Regions from separate parts of the Homo sapiens genome. Here region 2 is linked to region 1. The links come from fine-mapping of genetic effects on gene expression. A gene starts in region 1. The other region holds a variant in brackets. All regions are shown on one strand. Distances are from middle to middle.

Region 1 (2,901 bases):
GATTTTTGCAGGAACTATTTTCTGTAATTTTGCCTCAAATTATGCAGTTTTCTCTTTGGACATTTTTACCTATTCTGACAGCTCCTGCTTTACTCTTTCCATTCTCTTTCTTGGAACTAGCTTTTTCTTTTAACAAACTCCTTCCTTCATCACAATCATCCCACTCATCATCTGACACTATTTTGAGCACTCCTTTACTTTCTCTGGTGATTTAAAAAATAACGTTCAGCCAGATGCGTGGCTCAATCCAGTAATCCCAACACTCTGGGAGGCGTAGGTGGGCGGATGGCTTGAGTCCAGGAGTTCCCGACCAGCCCGGGCAACACAGCGAAACCTCGCCTCTACAAAAAATACAAAATTTAGCCGAGAGTGGTGGTGCTACTCAGGAGGTTGAGGCAGGAGGATCGCTTGAGCCCAGGAGGTCGAGGCTGCAGTGAGCCGTGATTGTACCACTGCACTCCCGCCTGAATGACAGGGCGATACTCAGTCTGGAAATAATAACAATAGTAACAATGTTCAGCTTAACCTGTGATGAGTGCCTTGACATCATCTCTTCATGAAGAAGATCCACCAAAATAAAATGGTTACAATTATTAGCCCTACAATACATCAAAAAAAAAAAGAAAAGAAAGAAAATCTGTCCCTGGCTTAGCCATTAGCCACCAAATCTGTGTGTTCAGGTGCTCTGTGACTGAAAATCTTGCCCTCGACCTGGGTCTGAGTTACATTCTGAGGTTTGGGGGCTTCTCACACCACGGAATTTATCACCTGAGCAACTTCAACCTGACAAATCCCTCCTAACGCCCTGCTCTGAGACCCCTTTAGGCGGTCTCCGGAGTACTCAGTGTACCTTTTTTTTTTTTTTTTCTTTGAGACGTAGTCTCGCTCTGTCGCTAGGCTGGAGTGCAGTGGCGCGATCTCGGCTCACGCAAGCTCCGCCTCCCGGGTTCAAGCGATTCCCCTGCCTCAGCCACCCGAGTGGCTGGGACTACAAGCGCGCGCCACCACGCCTGGCTAATTTTTTTGTATTTTAGTAGGGGTTTCACTATGTTGGCCAGGATGGTCTCGATTTCCCGACCGCCTGATCCGTCCGCCTCGGCCTCCCAAAGTGGTGGGATTACAGGCGTGAGCCACCGCGCCCGGCCTTCAGTGTACTACTTTCCTTATTTTATTTTTTGAGACAGCGCCTCGCTCTGTCGCCCAGGCTGGACGCAATGGAGCAGTCACGGATCACTGCAGCCTCGACCTCCCGGGCTCAAGCGATTCTCCCGCCTTAGCCTCCCAAATTACTGGGACCACAGGCTTGCGCCACCACGCCCTGCCATCGGCTCTCATTTCCTTTTCCCATCCTAGTCTTCCATCAGGCGTCCTTTCGGCGCACATTTCAGTGTCCTGCGGGGCTCACCAGTGTCCTTCCTCCAGGGCCTCAGGGGCAGTCAGAGGGATCTTTCCCGCCGCTCCACTCCCTCCTCCTCCTCCCCCTCCCCCTATCCCCTCCCCTCCCCTCCCTTCTCCTCTCCAGAAACGTCCTCGCTTGTCCGCCTCCACCGCCTCCCCCGCCAGCCGTGTCGGCTCTGCTCCGCGCCCAGCCGGCCAACCGGCGGCTCAGCTCTGGCGCGTCACAATGCGCCGTCGCGGCCCCGCCCCCGGACGCCGGACGCAGAAACTCCGCCCTGCCGCGGTCCTTGCGTCCTTCCGGCTCCGTCGTGGAAGCAGGACTGCGCCGCGTCTTCCTCAAGGTGGGGTTCGGGGGGCCACCGAATCGCTGTCACGCCGGCAGGTAGCAGGGGGTGGGGACGCGGGCTCCTTGGGCTTCTGTTTCCTGGTGTCCAGGGCAAAGGGCTGAGCCGGGCAGTAGGGCCTAGTCGGGGCCTGGCTCGCCGGGAGCAGGAGGGCTTCCGGCAAAGCCGCGTGCGCTCGACGGGCAGGCGCTGAGGATTGGGGCCGGCAGCGCGCCTGACCCCGCCCCTCGTAGGCTCCGCCCCGTGCTCGCAGGCGGGGGTTTCCATGGTGATGGTCAACAAGCCTCAACTGCCTCTGCTACAACTGCCAAGTTCCCCGCGTCCCACCCTCCTCTAGGTGCTCCAAGGGACCACCGGGGTGCCTGATATGAGAGCGGGAGTGTAGAGACTCGGAGGCCGAGGTGAGGGGCGGCCGAAGTCTCCGAGGTCGAAGGCCGCACACCCGGGACCTAGCGGGGACCGGGTCCCCCTGGGGGTGGGGACGGGGGGTGGGATTTGAGATTAGGGAGACTATCCGAAGTCCAGGGCCCCGTACCCGGACTACCTGGGGACTGGGCCTATTGGGGTGGGGATCGTTGGGCTGGGGCTGGGATTTGGGATCAGGGAAGAGCGATCTGAGTTTAAGCGCCGCAAACCTGGGACCGAGCGAGGACTGCACATAATGAGGGGCCGTGGCGCTGAGATTTGGGTGACGGGATTCGAGGTCGAGGGGCCCGTACGTGGGACCGGCAAGAACTGGACCCACTGGGATCGGGAGACGCAGCGTCGGAGGTCGAGAGCCGCACGCCCAGACAGTGGTCCCACGCGGTGAGCACCGCGGGCTGAGATTTTGGAGTCAGGAAAGCGCGGGGAAGGCACGGACGGCCGGGTGCGTTAGTCCGGCCCCCTGGCGGGGAGCTGGCGACTGCCGGAGGGCTCTGAAAGTGAGAACAGGCCTGGCGCAGTGGGAGGCCCAGCCGGGAGGATCTCTTGAGCCCAGGAGTTCCCGACAAGCCTGGGCAACATAGACTGTCTCTACTGAAAAGTAAAGAAAAAAAAATTAGCCACGTGTGGTGGCGCGCGCCTGTTGTCCCAGCTACTCGGGAGGCTGAGGCGGGAGGGTCGCTTGCTCTGAGGTCGAGGCTGCAGTGACAGTGATTGTGCCACTGCATTCCAGCCG
Region 2 (2,901 bases), 32 kb after region 1:
TAGTCACCCAGCAGCACAGTCCCTGGGCTCTGTCTTTGACAATGATAAACATCGGGAAGGCAACAGGCCCCAGTCCTTTGGAAACAGGGCTCAGGAGCAGGACACCAGGGTTGGAGGCTGGCTGTGGAATTCGTTAGCCCATGAGAACCTCTGGGTGCCTCCTCTCCTCTAACCTAACCCTAACCCTAATGTCATCCGCATCACATAGGTTGCTAGGAAAATTTGACATGTGTGAAGTGTTTACAGTGGTGTCTGTCACTCAGTAAATCCCCAATTGAGTGGAAATGACACTTTGCTTTCTCTGGTCCCCCCTACCTCTCCCCACAGCCCCTCAACTAGGAGAGGATGACAAGGGGAAATCACCCACCAGCTCTGAAACAGGCCCCAGGAAGGGGTCTCTGACGCACAGCCAGTAATCCCACAAAGGGAAGCCTGGAGAGCCTCTGTCATGCCCTAGTCAGCCCATTCCTCACTCCCAGAAGGGAGAGAGGAGAGCTCGTTTCCCCTGGGAACCAGGGTCCCAACTCCAGGGCCTGGCCTTGTCCATCTGGGGCTAACACTGACTCCATCCTCCACTGTCATCCAGACCTGGCCTCCCATCAGTTTCTGACTCCTCCCACCATGATTTTCCCAGGTTCCATGAGCGAGAGCCGTCACCCTCCACATCAGAGAGATAAGCCTGTCACTGGACAGTCACACCTAGGGACTCGTGTGGTGGGGCCTCCTACATAAGTGGTCACTTATAGGACTTGGGGGAACTGTGACACCTGTCCAGGAGAAGTTTAAATGAAGCAGCATGAGAGCTTGAAAGAAGAGCGGCAGGTCTCCACCACGACGTGGCCCCAGGATACATGTGAAGGTGGAGGTGGGTGGCTGTCACGTCCAGAAACCTCTGCTCCCCAGTGGGGCACTGGGGTTGGAAGTTGAGGCTGCATCTCTTGTCAGGGTCATGGGGCCACCATGCAAGGACAGGGTTTGCTAGGATTTCAAACAGCAGAGCTCCTGATAGTCGTGACTGCGTGGCCCTGGGTTCCTCAGTCAGAAAGCATGCACTGCTTCCGGTCACCTTTGTGTGGCTTCCCCTGGGTCTGCCACTCCAGACTTGGCTTTCTTACCGCACTTTTCATGTTCTCAAAAGCAGTCTCTCACACCAGCGTCTTCCCGTGCCAACGAGGAGAGAGCTCTGCACTGCACCCCCTGGATGAGGAGGCGTGCTCAGGAGCCCCCTTCTACCAGCCCTGCTGGGTGGCTCCCACCCCTGCCTCTGCGTCCTGCAGGGCTGGGCCTTGCCTCCTCAGTGATCCTATCGCCTGCATTCCAGTCGTGCTGCTAATTCCCTCCACCAGGGTGGTTTGCGCACAGGCCCCTCCCTAGGTCCACCTGTGCAGACTCAGCGCTGCCTCTGGGCTGGCCATACCACCTGGGGCTGCTGGTACAGGACAGCTTCCCCAAAGCACTGGGGCTTGCCAGGCCTTCTGTGACCCACCCAAGATTCCCTGATAGTGGCTGGACTCAGCCAGGTATCTTTAGTCCCACTCAGCCCCACCTTGGAACCTTGCTCTCAGTCCCTAC[G/A]TGTCCTGTTTCAAAGGCCCTGGAAGACATGTGGACCTCATTTTTACACCTCTGGGGCCCTGCACAAGTCTCTGACCCCACCCACAAGGCAGGTGACCCTAAGTCTAGGATACATCATACTTCTCAAGGATGTGGCCCACCCTGAGACATGGAGGAAGGGTGCATCATTGGAGACAGCTGCCCAGCCCAAGCCCTGGCCTCAGATTGGGAGCTGCCACCTGGCGGGGACTCCATTGTTCTCTGGCCTTTGCTGGAGGCAGAGGCTAGAAGTGGTCTCAGTTCCTTCTCCTGGGCTGTCAAGGGGCAGGACTGCAGGATGGGCACCAGGCAGAAGTGGCACTTCACACCCCTGCCTGGGGTGCCACAGGGACATTGCCAGGGAAGTCTTCCTGGAGGGGAGTTCAGGCATGCCAAAGAACTTGGATTTGCACACATGGTGTTTGTCTCCCACATGCACTATGCAGGGCTTCTCGAGACATACTTCTTCATGGAATTTCACAGGATATTTCCTGGGAGGAGGGGGGCCCATGGGGTGAGCTGAGGATTTTACTGGGATGGGTCAAAGGAATTGCTACATTTTCTACCATAGAGAGCATTCACTGGGTGAGGTCTCAATGGGGGGTCTCAATTGAGGTCTCAATGGGGGGGTGAGCCCTGGGGGTCGCTCTAGATTAAAGGAAGTCATGGGTACCTGAGGCATCAGGACTTCTAGGGCCCCCGTGCAAGTGGTGGAAATGGAAAGGTCTTCTGTTATAACACTGTGGTATCTCACAGTGCATGGGTCTCTCTGTGGGGCTTGCTGGAGTGGGAGCCATAGGAGACAGTTGGGCGGCAGGGACTCAGGGACTGGGAAGCTTGCTGGGAGTGGGCATCCAGGGAAAGTCAGCAATCCAAGGGATTACCCACCCCCAGACCCAAAGACGATGGATCACAAGACTACCGAGGAGGGGGTGGTGGGGCGAGTTTAATTCATAAAGAAGCCTCCTGATCAGAAAGGGGCCTAACAGCCTGCCCTTGGAGAGAAGTCCTTCCTTGAGGATAAGGCCTCCCAGGGGAGGAGGTGCTGGGGGCCAGTGTTAGGCTTCAGGCCATCCCTGGAGGCCAGTCCTGTGCTCAGCAAGTAGTGGCAGAGCCTGCGGAGAGTGGCGGGCAGGCCATCAGACACAGTCCTTACACAGACACCCCCTCAGCCCACAGAAGCCCGTCTCACCTGGAGTGATGAGTGGGATGGCCTTCTCAGGTACAGGACTAGAGAAAGGACCACATCAGAGTAGTATCAGGTTAGCCTGGAGGACCTTCTCCCCTATATCCCAGACTCTTGCTGCCCGG

What was found. PIP is the estimated chance that this variant, and not a neighbour inherited with it, causes the effect. A credible set is the group of variants that fine-mapping cannot tell apart.
Region 2: its variant is the best candidate, but not a certain one, in a credible set for the expression of HNRNPF in whole blood (TOPMed, PIP 0.85).

Annotation. Positions count from the first base shown.
Region 1 is chr10:43,407,969-43,410,869 of GRCh38, reverse strand. It overlaps HNRNPF (heterogeneous nuclear ribonucleoprotein F), which reads left to right and starts at 1,684. Exons shown (of 4, transcript NM_001098204.2): 1 at 1,684-1,739. RefSeq lists silencers at 1,265-1,494, 1,945-2,064 and enhancers at 1,785-1,844, 2,575-2,901, 2,354-2,901.
Region 2 is chr10:43,375,951-43,378,851 of GRCh38, reverse strand. FXYD4 (FXYD domain containing ion transport regulator 4) reads right to left here. Exons shown (of 9, transcript NM_173160.3): 8 at 2,783-2,820; 9 at 2,517-2,705. The coding sequence ends at 2,686. Among named protein-coding and RNA genes, the nearest start is that of FXYD4, 5.8 kb to the right of the region's middle. The variant G/A (reference allele first, on the strand shown) is at 1,573.